Regions from separate parts of the Homo sapiens genome. Here region 2 is linked to region 1. The links come from fine-mapping of genetic effects on plasma protein levels. Region 1 holds a variant in brackets. A gene starts in the other region. All regions are shown on their forward strands.

Region 1 (5,376 bases):
CTCCCGCCGCCCACCCTCCCTTACTTCCCCTTGGTACCTAGTGTCTCAGGTACATTGCAACTCTGCCAGCCCCTCTGAAATTCCAATTTCTGACTGCTGCTTCCTGGAGAGGAGAGGAGGCAATGAGGTCAGCACTTCAGAGAATAAGAGTTGAAGCCTATAAAGCTGTGAGGAAATTCTGTTAATTATCGAATTGTAACTTTTCAGTAGAGGAAGTCACTTGATCTTTTCAGCCGACTCTGGGAAAAGCAACACATCTATTTAATGCTGACCTTAGATCACCTCTTCATTCAGTACAATCGTTCCTCACCTCCCCAAAGAGACTTGCTTGCTTGGGAAAAATCAGCCTCTAGATTGCTGGGAGCTTTGTGAGTTTTTCTTCCCTCTCTGCAACCTGGTTCTTCAAGTTAAAATAAAAATCACAGCCCTGGGAGGAAAGGAGGGCACATAAATAAGGTGGCTGAAGCTGATGAAAGGGACTCTGTAAATAAGGGGACATTTTATTTGCCAAGTTGCCATAATAAAACACAGGTTTCCGAGTGTTTATCTGTTAACAATTTTAATAAAAAATGTTTCTAATACATGCACATATATAACATTTTTAGAAAATACATAGAAAAACAAGAAAGATAAACTGATTACCATCCCATGAAAACCACTATTCATATTTCAGGGTTCAGCCTTTCTCTGGGTCTCCCCACCTCTGACAGTCTCTCCATCCCTCACTATCTCTCCCTACCTCTTTCTCTGTCTTGCTCCCTCTCTCGTGCAGAACTGGAATCACAAAGTACATAATGTTCTGAACTTGATTTTTTTTCTTCGTTATTTGGAAGAAATATTTTTTCATTTTTAAACACACACAGCCATGAGAGGATGATGCGGCTCAAAGCTCTTAATTCAGGAGTGTGTTTATGTGTAGCCCAAATACTTATTGAGTGCCTACTGGGTACTAAGCTCTATGCTGGGCCTTCATGTGGTGAGAAAGACCTGGTCTGACGGAGCTTACAGTCCAAGGGGAGGATGGCTGCTAAATGATACCCAGCAGAGAAACTGCTTCTGCAAAGTGCCTGCCTGGATACTTTGCTGGATGGTGTTGGCCCAGAGCCAGCAGCTTTAGGGCTGCCTGCGGAAGGTCCCCACAACTGAGGTTTATTATTATTATTTAGTTTGCTGGTGAGACACACACAGAGTCTGCACAGCATCTGGCTGCGGGGTGGATTATGGTTAGCCAAGGGTTCCTTTTTATGGATGACTGCGGTAGTGAAGTTGCAGACTTACCTCCAGCCTCCTCAATTTCTGATGGGAGGCCTGAGTCTGACAAATAGTCCCGTGTCCTCAGTCCCCATCACTCTAGCCCCGTTGGAAGCTGGCCATTGCTTCTAGGCACCAGCCCGAAAGAGAGGAAGACTAATACTTTTCAGGCTGCCCAGCCATAGCCTGTAGAACAGGGGCCAGGGGAGGGCACAAGAGAGAATTCTAACCACCAGCCCACTGATGTCCACCTCTGATGGCCAGTGGAGATGAGTGAGCATCCAGGGCTGCAGGACCTTCTTGTGTGTGTGCTTGGCCCCACTACCCCTTTCTTCTTTGTAAGGGGCTCAACACAGCACCATACACAACTTCAAAACTTGATAGGGTAATTTTTATCTTAAAAGAAATCCTGAGAAGTAAAGGTTCTGAGCTTTGTAGAGAAAGTAAATAAAGTGTAACATTCTGACCCTCAGAGCTAAAGGGGTTGTTATAGAGCTATACCAGGAGCTAGCCTTTAATAAAACCTCCCTTGAAATTGTGTTAGATGTACTAAGTCCCGCTTTCATCTAATGCTTCCTCTTTGGGGTATTAGCCAGGTTGAGGATAAGCAACAGATGCCCACAGGCTTCCCATAAAGAATGTCAGTCATTGGACCTGAGTTGCACTGCTGACTATTCTCAGGCTTGTGGTCCACCACAGCACCTGATTCTTTTCACCTAAGTATGCAGCCAGCTCTTTTCCTGCATTTGTGCAATTGAGTTACTCTACTTGCATCTGTCCCAACTGAACAGCATATGATGGTTTCTGACTTACCACTTCTCCAATATAATGGACCAATTGAACCACAAAGAATGCCCAAATGGCAGCTGCCCTAGATTAATGGGTGTGTGTGGGTATTCTCCCTAAAAATAATGAGAGCTCATGTCTGTGGGGGCTCTGCAGTGAGAGCAATAATTTCAAAGCTGGATATCAGCAGAAAAACTAATGAGACCATTTAAAGTGTGTGTTAATGTGGTATGTGTGTAAAATTAACAACCCTTTGATAGCTAAGCCACAAACA[C/T]CCTCCTGAGGTCAATCTGGAAGTCACGGCGAAGACTGGCTCTGTGGGGCAGTGTGCCAGATGTGAGTAGGAAGGCCCTGGAGCCCGGAGATGACCCAGCTGCATCTTAAAAATTAATATTGTGTTAAATTAGCTCCCATGTAAATGCCATTTTGTAACAGCTGCCTGGCCTATTCGTGGGAGCAACAGCAGTCGGGAGCACACGGGGTCCCACTTCGAGACCATCTTCCTCCTTTTGATTAATCAGTACCAAACACTAATAGCAAAACTACCACCTAAATAACACCTGTAGCTACCACTTATTGAGTGCTTAGTGTGTGTCACACTCTGCACTAAACGCTTTGCACACGTGGCTTGTCTAATTCTTCCAACATCACTGTTGAGTACTGCTGGCGTCCTATTGAACAGATGTAGAAACTGAGGCTCTGAATATGACATGCCCAGGCTCACAGGCAAGTGGGTGAGCTGGGATTTATTACCTGGGTCTGACTGACTCAAACAGGTCCCATAAAGCATGTCAGTCATTGGAACTGGGTTGCACTGCTGAGTATTCTCAGGCTTGTGGTCCACCACAGCACCTGATTCTCTCTTAACTTGAAGAGTGTTCATCCTTTTTACAAATAAGTGGTGAGCTTCCTTCACAGAGATGTGTGTATTGTGGAGGTAGTGGATGGAGGGGTGTTTCTCTTGCAACCAGAGCCCAGAAATGTTGTTTCCAATCAAAGGATTGATATCTGTTCTGCTGGAAGGCTGGGTTGGAGGCATCTGCATTTTGGTTTAGAAGATCTACTCCTAACCCTGCTGCCAGCAACAGAACATAAGGAGAAGAAGGAAGCTCTTGTTGAAAGGCAGTTGAGGAGTAGGAAAAAAGTCTTACAGAAATGAATCATCTCCACAGGACATCTGAGCATCTGTTCATTGCCCAGCACTTTCTGAACTAGTCTGGACCAGAGAAGAGGCATCTGTGACTTTATCCAAATGGCCTGGTGTCCTGGGGAATGGGAAGCCACCTATACTGGCCACGCCTCCCACATGTATTATAACTCCACCACCTGCCCTCCCCTCTTCCCCATTCCAGGGACCCCTGAGGGGTCAGCAGGGATGCCCTGCTGGAGTGTGTTCCCCAGGGCACCTTGGGGTGAAGTCCTGATACATACTGTCTCATGTTGCACAAGTCACACTGAAGCCAGCCTCTGCCAGCAGAGAAGTGAAGGCCTTTCAGAAACTATCAGAAATCCAGCCAAGAAATCCATCGCGTCCCTTTGAGAGGGGAAGAAAGAGAGGCAGTCAGTTGACAAGGAAGGAAAGCTCCTGGCAAGAAGCATAACCCAACTCCCAGTCCCAGGGTAGAAGGGAAAGAGAAAGAATTAAGAAAGAAATAGTCAGCAACTTATGTTCCTTTCTATTTTCACAAACAAGATCTGCTGACTGACCTTTCAGATCAGCTGGGAAATGATACCGCACACGGAGCATGCAAATAGGACCCACTGTATTTCCCTGACACTCTGCGCCCTGCCTGCTCCAAGACCCCAGAGAGACCCTGGGGACGCCTCAGTTACAGTAGAAAATCCCAAATGAGCACAGCCTGGCTGGGGAGCCAAGATGGGGCCAAGAATCAAGATTCAGTATCAGGACGGCTCTGGGGCCGTGGCTAAAATGTGTTCTGGGGCATGAATCCTGGTTGCTAAGGTGACAGGCCCAACACCTCATGCTAAGGACAGGACGATGCCCGCTGTGCCTCAGTTGGAAAAGGGGCTTGCCAGTGCCAGATCCCAGGAATGCAGGCCACTCAGCTCCTCCCTCTCTTGAAAGCATATAAAGGGCAAATGGCCCTCCCAGCCACCAGATAAATGTCTGTTTGTCCTTGGGGTGTATTTCTTTTTTAGCAACCTGAACCATCTTCGTCATCTTCAAACTCCAATGCTATTCAACACCCTCCACAATCTAGCCGAAAATTAGTCTTACAGTCCGCCCTGTGAAATAGCCGATCTGAACTGTTCACCGCTCTCAGACCTCCCACCAAACTTGCCATGTCTTTGTTCGAACCATTCTCCGTGCCACGCTTGCCCACCTCCTCACCTCCTTTTAGCTAATACAACCCTACCAGTCCTCCAAAGACCCGCTCGAATGCCACCTCTCTGACGATGCTGTCCCTCATTGTTCCAGCCACAGGTTGTCTATGAAATTTGGGCAGCACCCCTCCTGTGGCTCCTCCCACATACTAGTATACACAGTGGATATTTGTGCGGTTCTCTCCCTTTACCATATTAAAAGCTCCATGTGTTTAGGAAACTGTCTCTTATACTGTCTGTCTCCTGTTCCCTTCATCAGCTAATCCAATACAATGTCGCTATTCCCTTTTCATTGTTCTATCTCATTCCAGCTCCCACCCTTTAAATATGGTGTTTCTCGATCCTGCTCTGAACAATGATCTGACTTTTTTCTGGCCTGGTAGCCTCTGCAGATTCTGGTATGTTTAGAACTACACTTTGGAAGCTTAGTCTGAGGGCATCGCCTGGGAAGGAACGGTGTTGGGGAGAAAATTGGTCCACAGTGTTGCACTGTGCATTCAGAGAGATGTTCATATAAATGGTGCCCCATGAATCATGCAACACGGCTGTGCAAAACAGAGAAGAAGCTGAAAGATGAGTGAAGGGGCTTTTTCAACAACCGAGGCAAAAATCAAATGTAACCCCGGGAAATGGGAAGAAGAGAACAAGTACAAGTGACACCGTAAAGGAAGAAGCAATAAGACATGAGACTCTAAGGGTCCTTTGCTATTTCCTACTTACCTATTATCCATCCCCCCACACCTCTTCTCATACAGAATTCTGATTGCTCTTCCTTTGAGGGACCACCTTTACCATTCACAGGCCATGTGGCTTGAGTGGTGAATGTGATCACCACTGGCCAATGAGATCACCATATCCCCATGAGGACAGGTTTGGAGTAGGCATGTAACCTAAGTCTGGGCAAATAAAAGTTTTATCTGGGACTTTTTTTGTTTTTTTTGTTTGTTTGTTTTTTCCTTTTTAGGCTAGTGTAGCCAAGCTAGAGAACCTTTC
Region 2 (5,376 bases), not on the chromosome of region 1:
GGTTTAGATGAGGTTATGAGGGGGGGCTCTCATGGTGAGATGAATGCTCTTATAAGAAGAAACCGTGACGAGCTAGCACTCCCTCCATCATGTGAGGACACAGCAAGAGGGCATCAGCTGTAAGCCAGGAAGAGGGACCTCACCATACCCAACCATCCTGACATCCTCATGTCAGACTTCCAGCCTCCAGAACCATCAGAAAATAAATATCTGTTTTTTAACTCACTCAGTCTATGCTTTTTTTTTTTTTTTTTTTTTTTTTTGAGACAGAGTCTCACTCTGTCACCCAGGCTGGAGTGCAGTGGCGTGATCTCGGCTCACTGCAACCTCTGCCTCCTGGGTTCAACTGAGTCTCCTGCCTCAGCCTCCCAAGTAGCTGGGATTACAGGCGCGAGTCACTGCACCCAGCTAATTTTTGTATTTTTAGTAGAGACAGGGTTTCACTATATGGTCCAAGCTGGTCTTGAACTCCTGACCTCAGGTGATCTGCCTGCCTTGGCCTCCCGAAGTGCTGGGATTACAGGCATGAGCTACCACGCCTGGCCCAGTCTATGGTATTTTGTTATGGCAGCCCAAGCTGACCAAGACAGTTATGATCACATTTGAAAAATGCAACTAAAACCAGGCAAAGAAACCTGGAAGTACACACAATTATCCAGAATAATTAATAATAGTAATAACTCATTTTATTAGAAACATAGCCTTCTCAGTTAGGGTTGCCATTTTATGTCAAGAAAGGGGAACGTGGCCGGGCGCGGTGGCTCACACCTGTAATCCCAGCACTTTGGGAGGCCAAGGTGGGCGGATCACGAGGTCAGGAGATCGAAACCACCCTGGCTAACACAGTGAAAACCCGTCTCTACTAAAAATACAAAAAATTAGCCAGGCATGGTGGCGGGCACCTGTAGTCCCAGCTACTCGGGAGGCTGAGGCAGGCGAATGGCATGAACCCGGGAGGTGAGCTTGCAGTGAGCCGAGATCACGCCACTGCACTCCATCCTGGGCGACAGAGCGAGATTCCGTCTCAAAAAAAAAAAAAAAAAAAAGAAAAAAAAAGAAAGAGGAACGTGTTTCTTCAGGAAATTGATAAAATGTGATTGGGAAAAGGACCAAGAGATGACTGCACTCCAGCCAAGAACTTACCCACAGAACTCACAGTGAAACAGACACTGAGGAGCAAGATGGATACGACTGCCATGGACCAGACCTTCAACTGGAACCACCAGAGTCCTTTCTCTGTCAGATCAGCATGACAAATGCACAGTCATAATCCCCACTGCCAAAGAGCCAGGAAACCAGAGTCCCAAAAATCTTAGAATAATAAAGTCAGGCTATGATCAAAACTAATTAAAACAGAAAAAATGTGAAAGCAAAAAGAGATTATAGAAATTATCTCAGAACAAATGACCAGATAGTACCCTGGAACCCAAGACAAATCCAGGCAAAACTCTCAGAGTAAACTGTACTTTCCAATTCCTTACTCTCTTTTCCCTTGAATTGCACAGCCTTGGCCTCAAACTTCCAGGCTTAAGTGGTCCTCCTGCCTCAACCTCTGAGTAGCTGGGACTTTAGGCATTTGCCTGCATGCCTGGCCAAATTCATATTCCTTTAAGGCCTTCTAGGCCCGAGTTGTTTTTCTTTTTTTCTTTTTTTTGAGATGGAGTTTCACTCCTGTTGCCCAGGCTGGAGTGCAATGGCACGATCTCGGCTCACTGCAACCTCCGCCTCCCAGGTTCAAGTGATTCTCCTGCCTCAGCCTCCCAAGTAGCTGGGATTACAGGCATGTGCCACCACGCCTGGCTAATTTTCTATTTTTAGTAGAGACAGGGTTTCTCCATGTTGGTCAGGCTGGTCTCGAACTCCTGACCTCAGGTGCTCTGCCCACCTCGGCCTCCCAAAGTGCTGGATTACAGGCGTGAGCCACCGCGCCCGCCCGGCCTTTCTTTTTTTCTTTCATCTTTCCCTGATCCAAGTATCTTGGGTCCATACCTGTTTCCATACTGAAATTACTATTATTTATGAAAAGCTGTCTACTTCTTCTTCCAAAGTCATCCCTATCACCTCAATGCCTGTTTCCCACTCCATCCTGCTCCTACTACCTTCCCTAGAACTGAGAAGATGAGTGCTTACCTCGGTCTTGAGGCTCTTCTTCAGGCACCATTGTGTGTGCGCACACCCTTTGGACTTCCTCTATCAGGTGGGTGCAGAAGCTCTTGTATCACTTTCTCCAAAGATGTTACTTTCGGGGTGTGGTTCTTTCAAACAAGCCAAGCCCTTAGATCCTTCTTCGCCTACTCTTGCAAAGGAAGAGATGTGACTTAGGAGACTCTGCAGTGAGCTAAAGCTTTCAATTTAAAACATACATCATGTTCAGAAATAAGGAAACACAAACAAGGAAATCGAGAAATACATGAAAAACAGTTCATGGTTGCAGGTCTGATTGTCTTTTTTTTTTTTTTTTTTTTTTTTTTCTAGACAGGGTCTCACTCTGCCACCCAGGCTGGAGTATAGTGGTGCAATCTCAGCTCACTACTACCTCTGCCTCGCGGGTTCAAGCGATTCTCCTGCCTCAGCCTCCCGAGCAGCTGGGACTACAGGCATGTGCCACCATGCCCAGCTAATTTTTGTATTTTTAGTAGTGACAGGGTTTCATCATACTGGCCAGGCTTGTCTCGAACTCCTGACCTCCTGCCGTTGCACTCCAGCCTGGGCAACAAGAGCAAAACTCCATCTCCAAAAAAAAAAAAAAAAAAGCCTCTTTCATTTGTAAATTGCCCAGTCTCAGGTATGTCTTTATCAGCAGTATGAAAACGGACTAATACAGCCTCCCAAAGTCCTGGGGTTACCGTTGTGAGCCACCACGTGCCCGGCCACTGCTGAGTAATCTTAAATAGAGAAAATCCATTATAGCCTATGCTACTCAAATGGAGATGTTTGGTTGAAGGATGGTTACAACTACTGGTGAAATAGACACTGAGAAAGAAAGAACCTAGGTATTCCAGAATCTTCCCAGAGTTCAACTGAGATTTAATTGTAGAGTAGTGAGAAAAAAGTTTTGAGCTGGGCACGGTGGCTCATGCCTATAATCCCAGCACTTTGGGAAGCTGAGGTGGGCGGATCACGAGGTCAAGAGATCGAGACCATCCTGGCCAACATGGTGAAACCCCGTTTCTACTAAAAATACAAAAATTAGCCAGGTGTGGTGGTGCATGCCTGTAGTCCCAGCTACTCAGGAGGCTGAGGCAGGAAAATTGCTTGAACCCGGGAGGCGGAGCTTACAGTGAGCCGAGATCGTGCCACTGCACTCCACCCTGGGTGACAGAGCAAGACTCAGTCTCAAAAAAAAAAAAGTTTTGAGTTAGCAGCCATCCTTTGAGATATTTTAGGACCCAGACCAATGAGATCCTTTCTAAGCTGTATACTTGCTGAAACAACTTAAAGTCCTGTTTGGTCTCTTGTCTACCTCCCATTTACAGTTCCCTGAACCTCCCTCTGCCCCTGCCTCAGGGGTTCTCCCTGTTGCTTTCCTCTGTCTTGGATTAAAATGTAGAGTATGAGGGTATTCCTTTGAGTATACAATGCTGAGAAGAAAGGAGCAAAGGCAAAAATGAGAAAAATAATTTAAAATAGAACAAATTATAAAAGCAGAAAGAATGACAAATTATTTTCTCAGAAGAAAAGCAGAATTGCATGTAGGCCCAGCTCAGGTGACATCCCAGCAGAATGCTTTGAGTATGACCAGAGTATTGCAAAAGCTACAGCTGAAGAGGATAAATCTAGATAAGAATTGGTAGATGGTTTGCTCACTACTTCTTCCCCCGGTTGGTGAGGGAGGGAGTCCCAACCCAGGGTTATGGGTGGCTGGACACACAACACCCGACACTGGACAGATAAGACTGACAGCAGTTCAGCTGCATGTACTCACGGCCTGAGGCAGGAGGGCACCGCACACCATGCAGGGTCAGACAGAGGTTGCACTTGGGAGCAGGGTGACTGTGGGAGGCAGGATCTGCTGTAACAAGAGGGTGAGGTGGCCCCTTGGCTCTTGAGGGAGGATGGGATTGGCTTCTTTAAAGAATTTTGTGGCCAGGTGTAGTGGCTCGTGCCTATAATCTCAGCACTTTGGGAGGCTGAGGTGGGCGGATTGCTTCAGGCCAGGAGTTCAAGACTAGCCTGGCCAACATAGTGAAACCCCATCTCTACTAAAAATCCAAAAAATTAGCCAAGCATGGTGGCACACGTCTGTAATTTCGGCTACTCAGGAGGCTGAGGCACGAGAATCACTGGAATTTGGGAGGCAGGGATTGCAGTGAGCCGTAATCGTACCACTTCACTCCAGCCTGGGTGACAGAGTGAGATTCTGTGTCAACGAAAAAAAAAAGAGAAAAAAAAGATTTTGTGGGCCTTCAGGGAAGTGAAATCTATTAGCTTGAGGACCAGGTGGAGTGCAGCTGGCCCAGCTGAGATGGAAACTGGCTGAGTGAGAAACAGAAATATTTTTTTTTTTTGAGATGGAGTCTTTCTCTGGTCACCTAGGCTGGAGTGAGTGCAGTGGCTAAATCTTGGCTCACTGCAACCTCCACCTCCCGGGTTTAAGCAATTCTCCTGCCTCAGCATCCCGAGTAGCTGGGACTACAGGCATGCGCCACCACGACTGTCTAATTTTGTATTTTTAGTAGAGACAGGGTTTCTCCATGTTGGTCAGACTGGTCTTGAACTCCCAACCTCAGGTGATCCGCCCACCTCAGCCACCCAAAGTGCTGGGATTACAGGTGTGAGCCACAATGCCTGGCCATTTTTTGTTTTTGAGACAGGATATCAGTCTGTTGCCCAGACTGAAGTGCAGTGTCTCGACCTTCACTCACTGTAGCCTTGACCTCCTGGGATCAAGTGATCCTCCCACCTCAGCCTCCCGAGTAACTGGGACTATAGATACACGTCATTACACCTGGGGATCTTTTAAATTTTTTTTGTAGAGACAGGGTCTCGCTATGTTATTTCCCAGGCTGATCTCGAACACCTGGGCTCAGGTGATCCTCTTGCCTTGGTCTCCCAAAGTGCTAGGATTACAGATGTAAACCAGCATGCCTGGCCGGTGATGCTCTTTTAACATGAGTACCCAGTGTTTGGAATCAGGACAGGGCATCAGTTAGGTTTTGCTGTATAATCAATTAACTTAAAACTTAAAATACACAGCTATTCAATTAGTTCATAGTTCCCGAGAGTCAGCAATTTGGGCTGAACACCACTGGGTGATTCTGGTTTGGATTGGATCGGATCGGTTCCATCTCAGCTGAGCTCACTCTGCAATAAGCTGGTGGGCTGGGTGGGGCTGGCTGATTCACGTCTCTCTTTGGTCATCCTCTAGCGGATTAG

Which allele goes with the higher level. Positions count from the first base shown, and alleles are read on the strand shown. Strength reflects both the effect of a copy and how common the allele is.
In carriers of allele T in region 1, the plasma level of the protein whose gene starts at base 2,188 in region 2 tends to be higher than with C alone (weak association).

What was found. PIP is the posterior inclusion probability: the model's chance that the variant is causal. Protein levels are from antibody-based Olink assays in UK Biobank. Linkage for the fine-mapping came from a reference panel and not from the study's own genotypes, which makes the PIPs less certain.
Region 2: it holds the start of CLEC4C, and the variant in region 1 is fine-mapped to the plasma level of the CLEC4C protein (UK Biobank, PIP 0.98).

Annotation. Positions count from the first base shown.
Region 1 is chr11:121,334,422-121,339,797 of GRCh38, forward strand. No RefSeq gene overlaps it. Among named protein-coding and RNA genes, the nearest start is that of SC5D, 44 kb to the left of the region's middle. RefSeq lists a silencer at 3,218-3,307 and an enhancer at 3,888-4,037. The variant C/T (reference allele first, on the strand shown) is at 2,312.
Region 2 is chr12:7,745,188-7,750,563 of GRCh38, forward strand. It overlaps CLEC4C (C-type lectin domain family 4 member C), which reads right to left and starts at 2,188. Exons shown (of 6, transcript NM_001371390.1): 1 at 2,131-2,188; 2 at 1,144-1,236. The coding sequence starts at 2,161. RefSeq lists enhancers at 3,964-4,043, 4,064-4,243, 4,424-4,503.